Linked DNA regions of Homo sapiens. Each later gene encodes a partner of the first gene's protein in a complex. Each region holds a gene or a part of one and is shown on either strand. Other genes may lie near its edges. The genes, in order: REN and AGT. A codon is read from its position in the direction of its gene.

Region 1 (10,286 bases):
CCGTTGATGGCAGATGGATGGCATCATCCCTGCACGCAAGAACCTGTGCGCTAGGCGAATGTGTAGCTTGTCTGTGTCACATTCCTGTCCACACATGATCACGCAGCCCCTCCCTCTGTTCTAAACCCTAGTGAACCCAGATGCAACAGGCTGTGAACATGAAGTCTTTATTCTCTTTGTCCTCAAAGCAGGGAAGGGCTGGTGCAGGGGTCAGGGCACGCATCCAGCAGGAGCTCCACATCCAATGTCTCCATCTGAGGGCATAAGCCCAGGCAGAGGGGCATCTCAGAGAGTGTTCCAGCTCTGGGCCAGGGCTGAAGGCAGGGCCTGCCTGGGTGGCAGAGGGCCTCAGCGGGCCAAGGCGAAGCCAATGCGGTTGTTACGCCGATCAAACTCTGTGTAGAACTTTCGGATGAAGGTGGCCCCCAGGGCCCAGGTGGGTCCAGTGGGTGGCGGGATATCCATGGCGTGGATGGCCAGTGTGCACAGCTTTTTACTACTGTAGGATTCCTGGCAGGAAGGGGGAGAGTTTCTCCATACCCAGCACATGAGCATTCTCCTTTCACCTTGCCTGACCCCCAGCAACTGTCTTCAGCAACATTCCCCCTCTCGCCCCCATCTCTCCCCTAGCCACACTGGGCCTCCCTCACATCATGGCCATTTTGCCCCATCGTGGACTGCACCACTCCTATGTTTAGCCCCTGTGCTAGATCCCAGGCAAACAATGCATCAGGCACCGTGCTTCCTTCAGGAGCTTACAGTTTGCCTTAGCTTCTGATCCTAGACAAGTTATTCAACTTCTCTAAGCCTATTGATTATGAAAAGAGGGTAAGAATATAGGAGCATAGGATTCTTGGGAGTATTTGATGAGAAAATGGAGATGAGGGAACAGGCATAGTGATGCCCAAACATGGCCACACATTGGAATCACCTGGGGAAACTGAACCCCAGGTGCCACTTCTAGAGGTTCTGATTTAATAGGTATGGGATGTGGCCCAGGTACCAGGATTTTTCAAAGCTCTCCAGGTGACATGCACAGCCAAGTTTGAGAACTACAGTTCTAACATGACCTGTGCATTGTAATCTGTCACTCTTTGAGGGTCTCTGTCCAGCCTTTCTCCCTGCCACCGAGGGGGCCGACTCGAACCTCACCTGAAATACATAGTCCGCGCTGGTGAGCGTGTATTCTTTGCCTCCCAGGTGGAAAGAGATGTCGGGGAGTGTAGGGCCCTCGTTACACTTCACGACATACTGGGGTGGGGGGCAAAGAGAGCCTTCTTGAGTATGGAAGACGTCTCAGCAGACAAGGAGTCCTGCGCTGGTGGCCTGGTCTCTCTGCTGGAGAGGGCTGGGGACAGTGCCCCGCCCCATGGGTGACCAGCCACATGTGTGGAGAGTGTGAGGTGAACAAGCGAAGGCCTGAGATGGCCTCATTTGCCTGGGGGATTTGTGAGCCGATACCAGGTGGCGCTCCCCCCACCCACAGCACCTTCCCTCTTTGGCTTCTTACATCAAACAGCCTCTTCTTGGCTCCCAAGGCCTCCATGAGCTTCTCTATGGAGCTGGTAGAACCTGAGATGTAGGATGCACCGGTGTCTACCAATGCCAGGCAGCCGTCTTCACAGAGCAAGGTGGATGACCCCACAGACACCCTGGGGGAGGCCACAGTCAGACAGACAGACAGACAGACAGACAGAAGGCTGATGGGGCACCTCCAGGCTGCATGTCCTTCCTGAGTGTGGGTGGGTGGGTGGAGGCCACGCTGGTGGCCTGTTGAGGCAGTGAGTAGAGGAGGGAAGGTACTGTCACCCTCCACCACTTCTCCCCAGGCCCCTCCCTTCTCTGTTCCCCAGCCTGGACAGAGCAGGCAGAGAGCAAATGGTGGCTGTGCTTAAGAAGTGGCTGCATTTGGAAAGAGGGCAGGATGGTAATGCAGTCCTTCCCCACCCTCCCCAACCCCAGTGACGGCAGCATTTTTTGGAGCCCGGGGAGGGTTGAGGATTTCTGACCCCTTCATTTGAATCTGCCAGACACCAGTCTTGATGAGGTTGATATAGTGGAAATTCCCTTCGTAATGCTGGGGGTCGCTGCCTCCCAGCACAATCTGTCCTCCCAGCGATTGGGAATTCCTAAAGGAAAGATCAGAAGCTCTTGGAAACCCATAACCTCCAGGACCCAGCAACTCAGGCAATTGGGGAAGGTTGCACAAGGGTGCAGGGGAGGACAGAGGGCTCTAGAGCAGAGGAATGTGGGACAGACAGCCAGGCTCGGAGCTGTCGTTGGGAAGCATGCAGAACATACTGCTTCTCTGCCTTTCTTCCCCTCCCCAAGACCAACCAGAGGTTGTTCCAGGGTAGTCCAGCTGTTCCCCCAAAAAGCATCCCCAGAGAGGTCACAGAAAAGGAGCAGGTACAAGGACAGTGAGTGGATGTGAACAAGACACAAATGGACACCCCTCACTCTTGGGTTGCTGCTGATTGAGCAGGTGCATGGGAGGGGACCCTGGGGAGGCTATTGGGTATGGGGTGGGCAGGTGGCATGGAGAGAGCAGGAAGGAGAGACAGAGAACTTCGGCATCTAGCGGAGGCTGGGCTTGCTGATGTGAGTTTTGGGCCGGTGGCGTGTGTAATTCTAGGTCAGGTGCTCGGGGAGTACTGGAAGGTCACAGCCATGTGGGGGTTTTGTCTCCTTACTCGGAATCTCTGCAGAGAAAGAGAGACAGCAGAAAGGAAGCTTCATTTCATGCCAGCCTCATCAGCCCTGCTGTTTGGCAGGGTGGGTGTTATGTACTCTCTTTGCCCTTCAGGCAATGGAGTCACCAAGAGGCGAAGTCACTTGCCTGAAGTTACCCAGTCCATGAGTGAACAAGTGGGGGACTGGAGCCAGGCTCCTGGTGCCCCGTCTGGAGCTGATTCCCCTCACCTTCCTTTCCTCCTCACTGCACTTGGCTCAGGGACTACTGTAGGCCTAGTCTCCAGGGCATGCCTGTGTGTGTGATGTGTTTTTCCAGAATTCATACTAGAATTCACACATGCACATGTGTGCATGGGTGTGTAGGTGTGCATATGTTATTTTGTGCAACTGCAAACTACTTGTGTTTTTATAAATTCGGAATGTATGTGTATATGCTAGCACAAATTCCCTCCTGCCTGTCTCTCAACACTTCAGTATCTCTCTGGATGTTCCCTCCTTCCCATCCCAAGATAAAAGAAGAGGCCAGCCCTCTCCTCTGCAAAACCTGGCTTCTTCCTGTCTGCTGGAACCTCATCTCTTTCAAGGCCTCCAAACTCCAGTGCCCCCATTTAGCTCCTCTTCTTTCCACATTTTTAATCTCTTTCTTTCCATTGGCTTCTTCCTCCACCTACAGGCATCACTCGAGCATCCTCTAGCATTTAAAAACACCCACCCTTCCTCTTCTGCTTCTGGATCTCACCCCCCACGCCACCCCCCATTCCCTTCCCTGTTGAATGTCCCAGGGCAGCCTACATCTCATGACCTCCACTTCCTGACACCCACGTCGTCCACCTCTTAACTTCTTGCCATCTGGCCTTGCCCCCACTTCCTCTAAAACAGTTCTTCTAAAGACCACCCCTGAATGCAGAGCCGCCAATTGGCCTTTTCTCAAGGCCTCACTTTCTATCACCAAACCGGAGACTCCTCTCCATTTTACTGTGAGATTTCTCTGAACTCTGATCCTCTCCTCTATTCTTTTTGCCACTGGCCTCATGTTCTTACCCTTGTGACTTTTTTTTTTTTTTTTTTTTTTTTGAGACTGGATCTCACTCTGTTGCCTTAGCTGGAGTGCAGTGGCACAATCACTGCTCACTGAAGCCTTAACTCCTGGGCTCATGCGATCCTCTCGCCTTGGCCTCCCAAAGTGCTGGGATTACAGGCATGAGCCACTGCACCCAGCCCCTTTTGCCTCCAGCTCTCTTGTCTCCAACTCATGCCATCTTTCTAAGCCCAGCAGTTTGGAGTAGAGCCCAACCCTGCTCAAGAGCTTCCCCAAGGCTGGCTGAGCTGCATATAAGCTCAGCCTAGAATTGAAAAGCATCCATGGTTTTCAGCACCACACTTGCTGCCTGCCTGTGACACTCTTTATGTTGGAATATGTCTTGTCTTCCCTGTTAGCCTGTAAGCTCTATGTGGGTAGGGGAGTACAGATTCTGCCTTGTTCACTGTGTTCACTGCTGCACCCCCAGAGCCTACCACAGTGCTTGGCACATAGCATTTACTGAACTGATGAGTGAGCAAACAAACGAATGAAGGATCTAATGGATGACTGAAGTTGGCTGTCTCTGTGTGGGAGGAGCCATGGCCCTAACAGGCAGGGCTACAGGTCACAGTAATCCCTTATTTACCATCGCCCCCACCTTGCATCTCCTCTTGCTCCAGAGTGGCGCTGTCTATTAGAATGTCCTGTCATGCTGGGAATATTCTCTATCTGCACTGTCATAAGACTGTAGTTACTAGCCACCGTGGCTGCCAGGCATTTGACGTGTGGCTAGTACAACTAAGAGCCACCAGTTGAATGCTTAATTGATGCTTAACTGTATTTAATTAATTTAAATTTCAATAGTGCCTTCCATATTGGCTAGTACAGCTCTAGATATTGATTGGCTGTCACCTAATTACAAACACTTTACAATTCTGGCCCAGACTCTCCTTCCACTCCCCATCTCTTCTCCCCTCCTGTCCCCCCACCTCAGCCCTTGGAGTCCCAGTCCCCACCTGTTGTAGTAGAAAGAGAAGACGTCCTCTTTTAGCACCCCTTGGGAGATGATGTTGTCGAAGATAGGGGTGACCCTGCCAATGGCCTGTTCAATGAAGCCCATGCCCACAACCCCATCAAACTCGGCCAGCATGAAGGGTAAGGCGGGCATCTCCGTGACCTCTCCAAACATCTGTGTCACCGTGATTCCACCCACCTGTGGGAGGAAGGACCAGAGGAGACCAAGCCCACTGCCCACTCCTTGGTTGGAGTCTGGTCTGGGCTTCCACACTAGGGATCCCAGGGGCACACATGCTCCAGGGTACAGAAATCGGGGTAAGAGTATTTCCTCAACCCTGCACGCACACACTCTGTGCCAATACACATCTCTGCTGCGGAGCCCAGAGAGAGCTAGAGTTGACCAGGGATCGGAGAGCAGAGGCTGAGAGGGTGGTCCTGCCAAGCAGCAAAAGAAAAGCTGCCAAGAGCTCCTCCCCTCCCCAGTGGCCAGACTTTCGTGCCTGGCAGGACTGGGTCTTGGCCCCCACCCTTATCATGGGCGAAGGGTTTCTTTAGCACAGACAAGCTTGCCCTTCTCCCTCCTTTATATCTGAGTTCACAGAAAAAGGAAGGGAGGCAGGAATCACCCTGATTTCCTCTCAGGTGCCACGTGTGCCCCTCCCCTAACTCTGATGGAGCAGGGCCTGAGAAACTCCAGGATGAGGAAACGGTCAGACATGGGCCACATGGAAAAGAAAAGCAGGCCTTGACCTGAGTCCCAGAGTCAACCTCAACTGTGACCTTAAAACCTATGCCTGACCCTAAAACTCAGCCTGACTCTGACCCTGGATTTCAGTCTAGGGTGTAGCCCAGTCAGAGCTGGTGAACTTGGACGAGTTACTTGACTGCAGCCACGGGGCTCAGGACAAGCCCTACATGCAAGTTAGATGCAAAAACATCCACAAACCACCCAACGGTGAGCCCGTAGCCCAGGCTTGCTCCCCCATAGGTACTGCTGCTTTGCAGCAACAGCCAGATGTGGCAGAGTAGGGTGTTCCTCAGCTCCCCAGGCTCCAAGTGGGCTGCAGTGTACCTCCCCGCAGGTGTGGGCCCTGGAGGGTCAGGAGAGGCCTGGGGACAGAAGGGGTCCGGGGCAGATGACCTAGGGCGGCCCAACTTACGGTGATGATGTCCTGGCTGAGAAAGCCACTGACTGTCCCTGTTGAATAGCGGAGGGTGAGTTCTGTTCCATTGTGCTTGTAGCTGGAGGAATCCGAAGCATCGAAGAGCTTGTGATACACTGGCAGGGGGACAGAGGCTCAGGTTTGTCCAAGAGTGGCCCAGACAGGGGGACTCAGAGGCAGGGTGCATTGTGGGTATGGCTGGTTAGCTTAGGTGCAGGGATGAGTGGCCCTAGGGTCAGGGGGCTTGGAATATGTGCTTCATCAATCAAGGACTGGGTTTCTTGGGCTCTCCTAATGTGCCCATACATCGAGAATTTTGTCCTAAATGAAGGAATTTAAAGTAATCACTAACACTGATAACACCAGAGAAGATGCCAGGCACAGAGTAAGTGCCTAGTAAGAGGTTGTTGATTAAGACTAGGGATGGAAGAGTTCCGAGTGCCTGGGATGGGTTTGAGAATTCAGTCCTGTCTCAATCTCAGGAAGACTGGGAAGTGGCCTTCTGGGTGCTCAGGGGTTCTTGGACCTTTTTTTGTTTTTAACCTTGGTGGCTGTATCAGAAAAACGGGAGACATCTTCCCCTCTCCCCTACATGTCAGTGGGCACAGAGGCAGAGAGGAAGCCACTCCCTTGGTGGCAAGAGGGATGGGAGCTGGGTGTTGGGCAGGATTGCTCATGCACAGTAGGGCAGGGGGATGGAGGAGAGGCACTGTGGGTCTTAGGTCTCACCACAGGCAGTGTAGAGACGGCTGCACTTGGAGGAGGGCACCCAAACATTGGACGAACCAGTGTCAAAGACGACTTTGAAGGTCTGGGGTGGGGTGCCGATGCCAATCTCGCCATAGTACTGGGTCTGTGGGGGTAAAAAGAGAGGGCTGGAGGGGCTCAGGGGACCTTGGGTCTTGGGGTCTTGCCTGGCTTCACTCTTGGCTCTCGGTGTGAGACTTGGCCCAGGCGAGGTCCTATAGCCTCTCGGGGTTTCCATTTTCCTGCAGGAACTGGTAGGAGGCTTAGCATCTCCCCATGGCATCCCAGAAAGTGGGAGTCTCAGTAAGACAAGAGGGCAAAATCAAAACATTGAGAATGAAGCAGGAAGCAAACTTGACTCTTGAGGATCCTCTGGGGCAGGAAGCCATCAGGTTGTGCTGGGCCAGGTCACAGAAACCCCCACCTGAGTCACACACCCCTTCCCACCCACCTGTGACACCTGGCTTGAGGCCTGGGCTGAGTTCCAAACCTAACCCTGCCCCTGAATGGCCCCTGGATGCCTTCCTGTCTTCTGTGCTCAGGCTTTCCAGCTGGAAAATGGGAATTTTCTAGGGTGCTCACGTGCTACTCAGCGCCTTCGTCAAACACAGCTTGGAAAGGGTGAGTCTTGCAGCAAAGAAAGCCCTAGGTCCATGAGGGAAAGGAGACAGGGAGGGAGCGAGGGGCTGAGCCAAGCACTCACGTCCATGTAGTTGGTGAGGATCACGGAGGAGGTGGTGTTGCCAAGTGTCAGCCTCTTCATGGGTTGGCTCCACTCGGGACCAAGCCTGGCCATGTCCACACCTCGTTCCTTCAGGCTTTCTCGGATTGAGGGCATTCTCTTGAGGAAGATCCTGGCCCAGGGTGGAGGAAGCAAAAATAGAAAAGTGCTGTACCTCCACCACAGTGGTGGAGTCCCTGAGGCCAAACCCCTGCTTTTAGTACAACCACCTTTAACGTTAGCCCAGCCACCTGGAAATCACCTCTGTCGCTGAGGGCCTCTGGAGCATTTATAAGAGTTACTTCTTGTCAAGAGTCAATTTAGAGGAGTCAGCTGCCCGGGGATTAAATAACCCTGAAGTGACTTCCTTCTGTTGCCTAATTTTGATTAGACAAGGCTATTTGTTTATTGGTCCGTTCATTCATTTATTCCGTAATCACCTGCTGAACAACTACTTTGTGCCTCACTGTGCTGGACACTGGAGCTAGAAAGATAATGATCATGACTGCCTTTAAGGAACTCCACCTGGCGGGAGGACAGACAGGAAACAGGCACAGACATTCCCTCTGAAGAGATTAATGCCAGGGAGTGCCCCTGTCAAAACTAGGGGCTGGCGGGGAGACAGTGCCATGGGAGGCCGCTAGGTGGCAGCAGATGCCCACAGCAGCTGCAAGGTCTCCAGGATACCAGGGGACAGGCACCCAGCCAGGGCTGTGGTGGAGTGGACCCCCTGAGCTGGGTTGGGCCTAGAGAGATGCCAGCATCTTCAGAGCGCCATGCACCTCGTCCTTGGAGAGATGTGTCCCGGTCCCTTGGCTTCTTGTCTAGATGTTTTCCCATCACCTTTGAGAGGCAGAATTAAAGAGACCTAGGAAACTGACTCTACTGAGCCGCTACTGAAATCACACCAACAAGCTAGCTGTCATCCATTTTATAGATGAGAAAAATGAAGGCTCACAGGGACAAAGGTGACTCAGAAATGTTGAAGCAGGGATTCAGAGCATGTGTCTGGCCCTATTTCCCATATAGGGTCCCCTGGGTCCCGACATAAAGGCTGCCAAAGCCCAGAGGAAGATGTCTCTAGCTGTTCACGGGAAGGTCCCAGGATGGAAGCCCAAGTTGACTCTGCAATAGACTTTCCCATACACACAAAGATTCCCTCTTTCTTCTACTTTCTTCTCAGTGGCTAGTCCTCCTATACTCACACTACCCTTTCCTTCCTACATCCTTCTTGCGTCCCATGCATTCTACTTACCCCCATTTTGCCCATGAACATGAATGCAACTTTTATGCCTATCAGCATGGTATTGTAACAGAAATGATTTGTTATCTTCCTATCACAGGTTACTGTTACCAAAATATTTTCACAATCATTATTTTATTTGCTCTCATAAGGTGGATGATTTTATTACTCCCACTTCACAGCTGGGAACGTGGAGGGTCAGAGGTTTGGCCCCAAAGAGGTTGCATTTCCCACTGTTTACTCACAACAGCCTATGCTTTGGACCTTTACTTCTTGCCATTTCCTTTTCAGAAAATCCTTTCCTTCTTCCCTTCCTTTTCCCCCCAGTTCTTTAGTCCTCCAAGGCCCAACATGTACCCCCACCTCCAGGAAGCTTACCCCAAGGCCTCCAGCCCACACCGGCCTCACCTTCCCGTGGGCCTCAGCTCTGTTTTTCCTTGGGTCTCACAGCCCACACTGTACAGCTTGTGGAACTGGTGCCGTACGGTGGTGAAGACAGTGGTTGCAGGGGGCATGCCTGAATCCCCTTACCACTTATGTGATTCTGAGAAAGCTACCTAACCTCTCTGGGCCTCTTCTAAGTCTCCATTAACCCCTCTCTAACAATGGGCCTAATGGTAGTACCTACCTCAGAGTCACTGTGCAGATGAAACCATGCGACCACTGCTCAATAAATGTAAATTGTAGGTGTGTATATGTACATGTTCACCTTGAGAATGGAGCTCATTCATTCAGCTGTCCCAAGTGCCTCGCATGATGCTCTGCACATAGCGGGTAGCAAAATTCCTATAATACTGTTTCAAAAGCTGGATTCCCCCTCCACCCCTTGCCCAATTCCATTCTTTTTCTCTTTTGGATAACAGCAGGGGAAGATGTTTTTACTTTCCTCTACCTTTATCCTGGAGTGCAGCTGCTTTGAAGCACCCATCCTCTTACCCAGTGCTCACAACCCAGCAATTACTCTCCGAGAGCCTCAGAGCAAGGGAAAGCAGTTTCGGAAGCAAAAGGCCCAGTGTGTGTTGAGGCTTAGCCTCTTACATATCACCTCCCTGAGCCTCAGTGTCCTCATCTGCAAAGTGGGAATGCTGAGTTGTTGGGGGCATGACTTGAGATGAGACATGTGAAAAGATCCTGTGACACCCTAAGCATTTTATAGGCTTAGCAACTATTACCATTATTAAAGTGTGCCTCCCTACCTTCAGGACTGCTGGTCATATCTGCTGTCCCCAGATTGAAAACCCCTTTCTCTGTGAGGCCTTTTCTCAAATGCTGTCTCTTCCCCTTCTTCAGTCTTTTTTTTTTTTTTTTTTTTTTTTACATAAGGTCTGGCTCTATCACCCAGGCTAGAGCACAGTGGGTCAGTCTCTGCTCACTGCAGCCTCCACCTCCCAGGCTGAAGTGATGCTCCCACCTCAGCCTCCCGAGTAGCTGGGACTACAGATTTGCACCACCACACCTAGCTAATTTTTGTATTTGTACAGACAAGGTTTCACCATGTTGCCTAGGCTGGTCTTGAACTCGTGAGCTCAAGCGATCTGCCCACCTCAGCCTCTCAAAGTGCTGGAATTACAAGCATGAGCCGCGTGCCCAGCTTCCTTCTACAGTCTTAATGAATCACTTGTTCCCACAAGGCCTGGCACCTAGGGGATGCTAAGGTTTTCTCCTTCTAATTGTGGGCTA
Region 2 (10,286 bases), about 27 Mb from region 1:
CAAATGCATGGGGAGTGGGGTGAGATGGTAGCTGAGGTCAGAATTTGGCATTTGAATGACTGAAGCAGAACAAAACACACCAGGTACTTCAGCAGCTGCACCGTGTTGAGGGCAGGTGCTGGTTACGGGTCTGGGTGAGGGAAGCCAGCTGCCAATGTAAGAAGAATGACTGGGTATGCTTAGATGAAGCAGAAAAATCTAGGCATCAAGGTGGCCTTGAGTCAGTGATGACACGCTACAGCTCCAAGGAAGCCTGGCCTAGCCCTGGGGGGACAGAAAAGGCCAAGAAGTGACGATATTGCAGTACACCCCCCTCCACAAGAAATGAGTGAGATGTGGTACAAAATGTTAGAATTGAATGAATCAATAGAATAAACGTTCATCCCTTCAATCAAGAAGAGTCAGATGAAATGAATTAGCAGGGCCAGCCCAAGAACCTCTTCTGGGGGTCTCAGGGTAGCTTTCATTTGTAGCAGCTGAGGCTGAAGCCCAGCTGCAAGGCCTTTGAGAGAACGTGGTGCTGGACCCGTGTCTAGGGCAGGGGTTCTAAACCCTGCTTACATATCAGAGTCACCTGAGAATTTTCTATTTTTTTTTTTTTTTTTTTATACGTGGTCCCAGCACAGACTAAGGAATCCAACTATCATTGGGCAAGCCATGCTAGGTATGCATGCCTTTGGGGCTCTGCAGGGGATAGCGCTATGCAGGGATGGTTGAGAGCTGGTTTTGGGGTTGAGACACGTGGGAAATACTTGGACTTTGGGCTGAGCCTGTGGTGCTCAATCCCGGCTGCATGTTGGGACCACAGGGAGATGACAAAACCATCCCCAGCCCTCACCCTAGGGCCCTCGAATGAGCATCTCAGGGGTCTAGGAGGCCTCCACAAAGACCTACTGATTGGCACACACTTGTTTCTCTAGGAAGAGAACTTACAGCTGCAGGCAGGAGCATGTCTTAATCTGCTTGGGCTGCCATAAGTACCACAGACTGGGAGGGTTTAACAACAGAAATGTGTTATCTCACAGTTCTGGAAGCTAGAAGCCTGGGAGCCAGCCATCAGCAGAGTTGGTTTCCTCTGGGTCCTCTATCCTTGGCTTGTAGATGGCCGTCTTCTCTCTGTGTCCCCACATGGTCTTCCCTCTGTGTCCCCACATGGTCTTCCCTCTGTGTGTGTCCATGTCCTCATCTCCTCTTCTCATAAGGACACAGGTCATATTAGATCAGGGCTCACCCTCATGGCCTCATTTTAACTTAATCATCTCTTTAAAGATCCTGTCTCCAAATAATGGTCACATTCTGAGGTCCTGGGGTTGAGGACTTCAACACGGGCATTATGGCCGTTGGGGGAGGTAGGACATAATTCAGCTGATATTGGTGCATTTTGCACTTGGATCATGTAGATATTTTCCATGGAGCTTTGAATCCATTTCTTCTTTTTTTTGTAGACATGAATGGATTTATTCTGGGCTAAATGGTGACAGGGAATATTGAGACAATGAAAGATCTGGTTAGATGGCACTTAAAGGTCAGTTAATAACCACCTTTCACCCTTTGCAAAATGATATTTCAGGGTATGCGGAAGCGAGCACCCCAGTCTGAGATGGCTCCTGCCGGTGTGAGCCTGAGGGCCACCATCCTCTGCCTCCTGGCCTGGGCTGGCCTGGCTGCAGGTGACCGGGTGTACATACACCCCTTCCACCTCGTCATCCACAATGAGAGTACCTGTGAGCAGCTGGCAAAGGCCAATGCCGGGAAGCCCAAAGACCCCACCTTCATACCTGCTCCAATTCAGGCCAAGACATCCCCTGTGGATGAAAAGGCCCTACAGGACCAGCTGGTGCTAGTCGCTGCAAAACTTGACACCGAAGACAAGTTGAGGGCCGCAATGGTCGGGATGCTGGCCAACTTCTTGGGCTTCCGTATATATGGCATGCACAGTGAGCTATGGGGCGTGGTCCATGGGGCCACCGTCCTCTCCCCAACGGCTGTCTTTGGCACCCTGGCCTCTCTCTATCTGGGAGCCTTGGACCACACAGCTGACAGGCTACAGGCAATCCTGGGTGTTCCTTGGAAGGACAAGAACTGCACCTCCCGGCTGGATGCGCACAAGGTCCTGTCTGCCCTGCAGGCTGTACAGGGCCTGCTAGTGGCCCAGGGCAGGGCTGATAGCCAGGCCCAGCTGCTGCTGTCCACGGTGGTGGGCGTGTTCACAGCCCCAGGCCTGCACCTGAAGCAGCCGTTTGTGCAGGGCCTGGCTCTCTATACCCCTGTGGTCCTCCCACGCTCTCTGGACTTCACAGAACTGGATGTTGCTGCTGAGAAGATTGACAGGTTCATGCAGGCTGTGACAGGATGGAAGACTGGCTGCTCCCTGATGGGAGCCAGTGTGGACAGCACCCTGGCTTTCAACACCTACGTCCACTTCCAAGGTAAGGCAAACCTCTCTGCTGGCTCTGGCCCTAGGACTTAGTATCCAATGTGTAGCTGAGATCAGCCAGTCAGGCCTTGGAGATGGGCAGGGGGCAGCCCTGCGGACATACCTGGTGACCACCCTTGAGAAGTGGGGAAGTGGCTGCTCCGCTGGGTCCCTGGATGGGCCGTCCACCTCCTGGACCTGCTGCCCTACTATGTGCACGACTATACAACATCCTTTTTCTTACATCATTTAATCCCCTTATGATGTGGTGAAGAGGTATTTGTGCCTTTGTTTACCAGTGAAGAAATAGAGACTCGGAGAAACAAAGTGCCTTGCTCAAGATGGCACAGCCACCAGTGGGGGTCCTGGGATTGAAACCCACATCTCCTGGCCCCACAGCCCAGTTCTACACTCAGAAGGGTCAGGTTCATATCTCTTGAGAAGGTCAGGAACTGGGGTCCCTGGCCCATGCAGAAATAAGCAATTGGCTTGCTTAAATCCCTTTCATGTTAGGAGGGGCATTACTGAAAACCCTCTACTACAAAGATTGTTGATTTTTTTTTTTTTTTTTATTGAGACAGGGTCTTGTTCTGTCACCCAGGCTGCAGTGTAGTGGTGCCATCATTGCTCACTGTAGCCTTGAACTCCTGGCCTCAAGCGATCCTCCCACCTCTGCCTTCCAAAGTGTTGGGATTAAAGGTGTGAGCCACTGCACCCAGCCACAGATTGCTTAAAGCATTCATTTAACAAATACTTGTTGAGGATTTGCTACTTGTAAGACTTTAAGCCTGGCATCTCAGAGGAGGCCAGAGGAGGGCTGTATAGGCCCTGCCTCCAGGCTTTTAAAGGTCAATGGGCAAATGCCTAGGATTTGGAGCTGCAGGGAAACGTGCTCCACAAGGTAACTCAGGGAAGCCTCGGGGCTCTCAGAGGACAGAGGTCACTGGGGAGCGGAGAGCAGGCCTTGCCTGGCAGTGAGGGCAACAGGGCTGGTGAAGCTAGGAGCAAGCATGATGAGCCCAGCCTGCAGAGTTTGGGGCAAGGAACGAGGATGGGGCGGTTGGCTTGGCATGAGTGTTGAACCAGAAAATGGGCCTGGGGAGGGCAGAGCTGGAGACACTTTGAACGCCATGCTTGGTAGGTGTGGGAATGGGGACGCGTTCTGTTCAGAGGTCATCCCGGAAGCCTGCCGTGTGCAGACTGGAGGCAGGGAGGATTGTTTGAAGGTTACGCAAGAGTCCAGGCACACAGTCACGGGAACACGTGCTCAGGGAGCAGCTCGGCAAATCCATGGGTGGGGTGGGGCTGAGGGGTGTGTCTAAGAGACACTGAGGAGGCTCTGTCAAGATGTTAACCTCGTGAGGGACAGAGAGCCAGGCGGGAGGTGAAAGACAAGACTGTGGAGAAAGAGGTTCAGTGGCGCATAGTGATTTTTCTTACCACAACAACCTCCTTGAGGTCTTTCCCTTCGGGTTCAGGGAGAGGTGATAGATGGGGGGATTGCTCAGCCCTGGCACTGACTGGTCACAGGGGCAGAGGCCAGCCCGAGGGTTGCCCGGTTGAGGGTGGCAGCACACTGTGCAGGGCAGAGCAGGGACACATGGACTTAGCCTGCTGTCCCTAGGAGAAGTGCTGGGAGGAGCGCTCACTGAGAAGGAGGGTCCTGCAGAAGGCAAAGGCAAGAAAGCCAGTGGCATCTGAAATGGGTCTCCCTTCGAAAGAGAGCACATCCACCTGACCCAGACCGCAGAGCCAGGCCAGGAGGAAGAGGAGGAAGAATAAAAAAGCCAACCACATCGGGACTCAAAGGAAGCCCAGGATCCTCGCCGGCCTCCACCGCATGCTGCCCTGACCCTGCCCCACTTCCTAACTTTGCTGGCCTCAGTTTCCGTCAAAGGAGGCAGCCACTTCCTGCCCACATGGTCTGTCCAGTGAGGAGATCGGGGGCTGTCTCGGGACCTCTAGGTTTCCCTTTAGCAATGATGTTCTATTTACATGACCTCAGCAGGCAGCTAGATGTGTCCCACTAGAGAGGACCTGAGGATCTGGGGCCTGATGGGCTCCAGGGTACCGTCTGCCCAGTGCTTGCTGTGCTCCTGAGCATGGGGCGCTGGCCCTGGTGGTTTCCATGACACCAGGTCCTGACTTGACCTCGACAGATTTACCTAGCCTCCGGATGAGAATGGTGAGCTGTGCATGTCAGACGAGCAGAGGGAAGACGGCAGCCACTCTCATGTCAAATCCCAGCGTCTTTTGGGAGGCAGCTTCCCTTTTTTAGTTTAGTTTGTTGGAAGAAAAGAATTGTCCCTTTCCCCCCTCTAAACTAAAAGCCTTGCCAGCCCAGGTGGGCAGCACCGAGGTCCCTGCAGGGAACGTGCAAGGGGAACCCTGCAGTTTCCCGCTCACATGCCCTTCCGAGACTGAGTGCTCCGAGGACTGAGGACGAGAAATATGCCAGGTCTGCCACTGCCTTCTTACGAGACCCGGACCCAGGGGAGGCACAGCCATGCCCAGCTCCTGCCTGCCAGTTCTGTCCTCCCAGCTGCCCTACTTTCATGCTGGGACCTCCAATTCAGTACAAAGGGAGACCTCACTGTTTCTGAACCATCTCTACTCAGACTCCCAAGTGCCACGTGCCCAGGGGACTGTTCTGTGACAAACTTATACACAACTTCACCCTATTCTCCTAAGAACAACCGCAGAATAGGCCTTTCAGGATGAGTGGGAGGACAGCCGAGGGCAGGGATGTGCTAGTGTAAGGTCGAGGCAGAGGGTGGGCTGCTGTCATGGAAAGACCCCAGGTAACTGCGTCACACACAAATTTGTGTCCTTCTCCCACAACGGGCTCTCCCGAGTTCTCTGTCATCTGCACGGCCCTGTGAGCAGGAGGGGAAACAGAGGGCTCACCCCTGCCCCCAAGGCCCAGTGTGCAAATCCATTCATCACAACGAGGTTGTGTGAGTCTCCCCAGTAGCAAGGGCTGCTGAGGAATGGAGCCCTCGTTTCCGGGGCCTGCGTGGCCCACTCTGTATTCTATGACTGTGATGGGGGAGGGTGGGGGCCACAGGACAGCTGGTGGGCTCTGCCATGGCTGGGGCTAGACATGGATTAAAAAGTGAGTATGAGCAGGGGCCTCTAGGAGTGGTGGGATAGTGCGGTGGTGGCCACATGTCATTCTACGTGCGTCCAAACCTACAGAATGTAAAACACCAGGAGGGAGACTCAAAGAAAACTATCAACTTTGAGTGCTGAGGACGTGTCAGTGTAGGTTCGTCAGTTGCAACAAATGGGCCACGCTGGTGTGAGATGTTGATCACGGGGGAGGCTGTGTAGTGGGGGACAAGAGTTATATGGGAACTTTCTGTACTTTCTGCTCGATTTTGCTGTGAACCTAAAGTCACTCTAAAAAATAACATCTCTTAAATTTTTTAAAAAGTGAGTGTGTCAAACCACAGCCTTTGGGTCAGGACAGTTCTAGGTTTGAGTTGACCTGGCAGGTACCAGTGGCTTATGTCCCTTAAGGTGACAGATGCAAAACCCCCGGTTTGGTGCCTGGCATGTTGTGTGTCTTGCAGGTGGCGGTTAGGGCTGCCTCAGTGAACTCAAATGGCTGCATTTTACAGGAGAAATATTTGAGCCACACTTGCGGTCCTGTGGCCAGGAGAATGCAGAGTGGCCTGGGGGGGGCCAAGGAAGGAGGCTGAGGCAGGGCGAGGGGCAGGATCTGGGCCTTTGGTGTCTGCCAGCCCTCATTCCTGCCCCTGTCTTGGGTGACTCTTCCCTCCCTGTCTCCTGTCTGGATTTCAGGGAAGATGAAGGGCTTCTCCCTGCTGGCCGAGCCCCAGGAGTTCTGGGTGGACAACAGCACCTCAGTGTCTGTTCCCATGCTCTCTGGCATGGGCACCTTCCAGCACTGGAGTGACATCCAGGACAACTTCTCGGTGACTCAAGTGCCCTTCACTGAGAGCGCCTGCCTGCTGCTGATCCAGCCTCACTATGCCTCTGACCTGGACAAGGTGGAGGGTCTCACTTTCCAGCAAAACTCCCTCAACTGGATGAAGAAACTATCTCCCCGGTAGGAGCCTCCCGGTCTCCCCTGGAATGTGGGAGCCACACTGTCCTGCCCAGGCTGGGGGCGGGGTGGGGAGTAGACACACCTGAGCTGAGCCTTGGGTGCAGAGCAGGGCAGGGCCGCGGTGGCACGGGGCTGGGCAGGCGGCCTGTGTGTCTGTCTACCAGTCCTCTATCCAGCCAGCACCCAGCTCTCCAGTTAGTGTCTGTCTTTCAAGTGCAGGCAAGGTAAAGGAGGAGAGGAAGAATGCTTTTTCTACACTTACACTTGCCTGGTAGTTTTGGAGGGGGAGAAAACATTGCAATCCGCCCTCTGAGAGAGGACCATTTTGGTCCCACACCTGACACACAGCACACCTGTGACATCCAAGAGCTTCTTGGAACTGACTTGCCAGGAGGGTTCGGACTTCGCGTGAGCGGGGGTGGGGCCTTCTCAGGGAGCGTCCCTTGACTCCAGAACGCCCTTGCTGGCGGCTGGCGGCTGGGTGGGGATAGGTGTTGTTAGCTCCTCTTTCCTGCTGCAATTCCTTTCCACAGAGCCCTGGACTCAAACTACACATCACCCCAGATCATCGAGGCCTGGAAATCTGCTCCCAGAGGCAGGCATTGAGTGACACGATGGCTTGACATCAACTCTGGGTGTTTTTTATGTTTTAAAAATTGTGATGGTAAAATATACGTAACAAAATTTGCCATCGTAACCATTTTCGAGTGCACAGTTCAGTGGTACTAGGCCCATTCACACTGTTGTGCAGCCATCACCCCCGTCCATCTCCATTTATCTTCTCAACTTCCCAAACTGAAGCTCTGTCCTGCTGAAACACTAACTCTCCATTTCCCCTTCCCCTTGGCCCCGGCAACCACCACGATGTCCTCGAGGTTCACCCATGTTGTAGCACATGTCAGAATGTCCTTCCTTTTGAAGGCTGAATAATATTCCATTGCATGTGGTTACCACCTTTTGTGTATCCACTCATCCATCGATGGACACGTGGGTTGCTTCCACCTTTGAGCTGCTGTGAATAGTGCAGTGTACCCTGTAAACATGGGTGTACTGTCAGCTCTTATAAGTGCTTGATACATCACTGGAAATGTCCATGGGCTCTGAAGGATGCCAAAAGATGGAAGAGGCTCTATACGAAGATCAATCGAGTTGACATAGCAACGTGTCCAGCACGAGGTTGACACTGTACCCTCCTGCCTCTCTCCTTTTCATGGGTGTCATGTCATCAAGAACACTGCTGTGGCAGTAGTAAGACACAGTGCATTATTTCAGAGAATAGCATTTAAAAATTACCCAAGTAACACACCTTCAATGCAGCCAACCTAAAAACAGAATGCACCAAAGGACAACCATTCCTAGGTCCTCATCGGTAAATCTTCTATGTCCCTCACATAGTATTGCAAATGACATGAAGGATTTTTATTGTAGGTTTTGCTGAAATTTTCCCCAAGGGGGAGGATGACTTAGTTGGGTGATGGGGGGAGCAAACATCCCTGTCGTCAGGGTTGGGTGCAAGGAGCATAAGCCTGCCTGGCCTCTGGGAGAGCCCTCACTGTGTGGCCTGGAGCCTTCCTAACTGTGCATCATCTCCCCAGGACCATCCACCTGACCATGCCCCAACTGGTGCTGCAAGGATCTTATGACCTGCAGGACCTGCTCGCCCAGGCTGAGCTGCCCGCCATTCTGCACACCGAGCTGAACCTGCAAAAATTGAGCAATGACCGCATCAGGGTGGGGGAGGTATGTGTGAGCCTGTGTCTGTGCCTGACCTGGGTTCCAAGTGTGCACAGGGTGGGAGGCATGGATGTAAGGGACACAGAGGAGGCTATGGGTGGGGCCAGCAGGGCAAGAGGGAGCGGAGAGTAGGGCCAAAGGTGGGAGAGAAGTAGCCAGAGCATTCTGGGGCCTTCCAGGTGCAGAGCAGCAAATCCCTCCCCATCCCTGCTGTGCCTCCTCCTGCTAGGTGTGTGTTCCATGGTCCTGCTTGGCCTTGCCTTGCCTCAGGGTCCTCCAGGGTTCCTATAGTGGAGTTGAAACCGGGATGAAGACAGCAAGCACCCCTGGACCTGGTGCCCTGGGCCCAGCCCCTTCTTCAGGGAAATGCTGAGCAGCAGACAGAATGTCCCCCTGCCATGTGGCACCATGCACATCTGCAGCTACCAAGGATGTGCCTTGATGTTCTGGGCCCTGTGCTCAGTGCTGGGGAGAAAGTGGGAGTTCTTACGGGGGCCAGCGGGAAGAGCCCTCTGTGCTAAGTTAGCTAAGCCCTGGCACTGGTGGGCCATGGCCAAGGGAGCCAGGAATTCTGCCTGGGACATCAGGGCAGAATGTGAAGATGGGAGGATGTAAGGGGTGTGTTAGGGAGGAGCCGGCATGTGAGTTTGGCCATTGTGGCCAATTAACGGTCATCTACACACAGACACACCCTTGCCTACACTGAGGGGCAGGCATACACTGTGCATCCTCCTGGCAGGCTGGAAAATGTCCCCCTCCAGGACAGTGCACAGCACAGAGGTCCTGAGCCCACCCCGGCCCTCTAGCCCTCAGCACCCTGGGTCACCCAGTGCGCCCTCAGAATGATCCTGATGTCTGCTGCTTTGCAGGTGCTGAACAGCATTTTTTTTGAGCTTGAAGCGGATGAGAGAGAGCCCACAGAGTCTACCCAACAGCTTAACAAGCCTGAGGTCTTGGAGGTGACCCTGAACCGCCCATTCCTGTTTGCTGTGTATGATCAAAGCGCCACTGCCCTGCACTTCCTGGGCCGCGTGGCCAACCCGCTGAGCACAGCATGAGGCCAGGGCCCCAGAACACAGTGCCTGGCAAGGCCTCTGCCCCTGGCCTTTGAGGCAAAGGCCAGCAGCAGATAACAACCCCGGACAAATCAGCGATGTGTCACCCCCAGTCTCCCACCTTTTCTTCTAATGAGTCGACTTTGAGCTGGAAAGCAGCCGTTTCTCCTTGGTCTAAGTGTGCTGCATGGAGTGAGCAGTAGAAGCCTGCAGCGGCACAAATGCACCTCCCAGTTTGCTGGGTTTATTTTAGAGAATGGGGGTGGGGAGGCAAGAACCAGTGTTTAGCGCGGGACTACTGTTCCAAAAAGAATTCCAACCGACCAGCTTGTTTGTGAAACAAAAAAGTGTTCCCTTTTCAAGTTGAGAACAAAAATTGGGTTTTAAAATTAAAGTATACATTTTTGCATTGCCTTCGGTTTGTATTTAGTGTCTTGAATGTAAGAACATGACCTCCGTGTAGTGTCTGTAATACCTTAGTTTTTTCCACAGATGCTTGTGATTTTTGAACAATACGTGAAAGATGCAAGCACCTGAATTTCTGTTTGAATGCGGAACCATAGCTGGTTATTTCTCCCTTGTGTTAGTAATAAACGTCTTGCCACAATAAGCCTCCAAAAATTTTATCTTTCATTTAGCAGCCAAACAGATGTATACAATTCAGCAGATAGACTGTGCAAACGAAAGTGCTTTCCTGGACTTTGGATGGAATTTCCATGGGAGGTCTGAGCCAGTACTTAGCAGTCCTTTGAAGTTTTAGGTGATGCTTTTCTCTGGACACTTCCATTGGTAAGCAGTGGTGGCCATCTGTGTGATGGACAGGGGGCGGGAAGAGGGTGACAGGGAAGGCCCCATACCCCATGTGGCACCTGGGAAAGGAACCAGGCAGATGGGACTTCTTCCGTCCTGGTGACACAGGGCCAGACTGCTGCTGGTATTGTGCCCCGGGAGTGGAAGGTAGAGAAATAAATCTTCACAAATAAATATTTGCAATTTTCCCCCATCT

What was found.
Region 2: the proteins of REN (region 1) and AGT are in contact, whole or in part, in a crystal structure (PDB 6I3F), measured with the Homo sapiens proteins. Residues at the interface, in NP_000528.1 of Homo sapiens: Tyr81 (codon at 7,354), Met82 (codon at 7,351), Thr84 (codon at 6,748), Gln85 (codon at 6,745), Val102 (codon at 6,694), Asp104 (codon at 6,688), Gly106 (codon at 6,682), Ser107 (codon at 6,679), Asn109 (codon at 6,673), Ser118 (codon at 6,646), Arg119 (codon at 6,643), Leu120 (codon at 6,640), Tyr121 (codon at 6,637), Thr122 (codon at 6,634), Val125 (codon at 6,625), Tyr126 (codon at 6,009), Leu147 (codon at 5,946), Arg148 (codon at 5,943), Tyr149 (codon at 5,940), Ser150 (codon at 5,937), Pro181 (codon at 4,880), Ala182 (codon at 4,877), Leu183 (codon at 4,874), Pro184 (codon at 4,871), Met186 (codon at 4,865), Leu187 (codon at 4,862), Ala188 (codon at 4,859), Glu189 (codon at 4,856), Phe190 (codon at 4,853), Val193 (codon at 4,844); in NP_001369746.2 of Homo sapiens: Asp25, Tyr28, Ile29, His30, Pro31, Phe32, His33, Leu34, Val35, Ile36, His37, Asn38, Glu39, Lys91, Leu92, Ala95, Met96, Met99, Leu100, Phe103, Arg107, Arg148, Ala151, Ile152, Gly154, Gln353, Gln354, Asn355, Asn358, Glu391.

The regions. Positions count from the first base shown.
Region 1 is NC_000001.11:204,154,668-204,164,953, forward strand, and holds the end of REN (renin preproprotein), read right to left. Parts: intron 7,497-10,286; coding exon 7,346-7,496; intron 6,749-7,345; coding exon 6,625-6,748; intron 6,012-6,624; coding exon 5,893-6,011; intron 4,929-5,892; coding exon 4,732-4,928; intron 2,703-4,731; coding exon 2,694-2,702; intron 2,130-2,693; coding exon 2,010-2,129; intron 1,653-2,009; coding exon 1,511-1,652; intron 1,252-1,510; coding exon 1,153-1,251; intron 511-1,152; coding exon 349-510; 3' UTR 152-348; downstream 1-151. UniProt on the Homo sapiens protein: Renin is a highly specific endopeptidase, whose only known function is to generate angiotensin I from angiotensinogen in the plasma, initiating a cascade of reactions that produce an elevation of blood pressure and increased sodium retention by the kidney.
Region 2 is NC_000001.11:230,702,138-230,712,423, reverse strand, and holds the end of AGT (angiotensinogen precursor), read left to right. Parts: intron 1-1,570; 5' UTR 1,571-1,600; coding exon 1,601-2,429; intron 2,430-6,223; coding exon 6,224-6,491; intron 6,492-8,086; coding exon 8,087-8,231; intron 8,232-9,094; coding exon 9,095-9,283; 3' UTR 9,284-9,901; downstream 9,902-10,286. UniProt on the Homo sapiens protein: Essential component of the renin-angiotensin system (RAS), a potent regulator of blood pressure, body fluid and electrolyte homeostasis.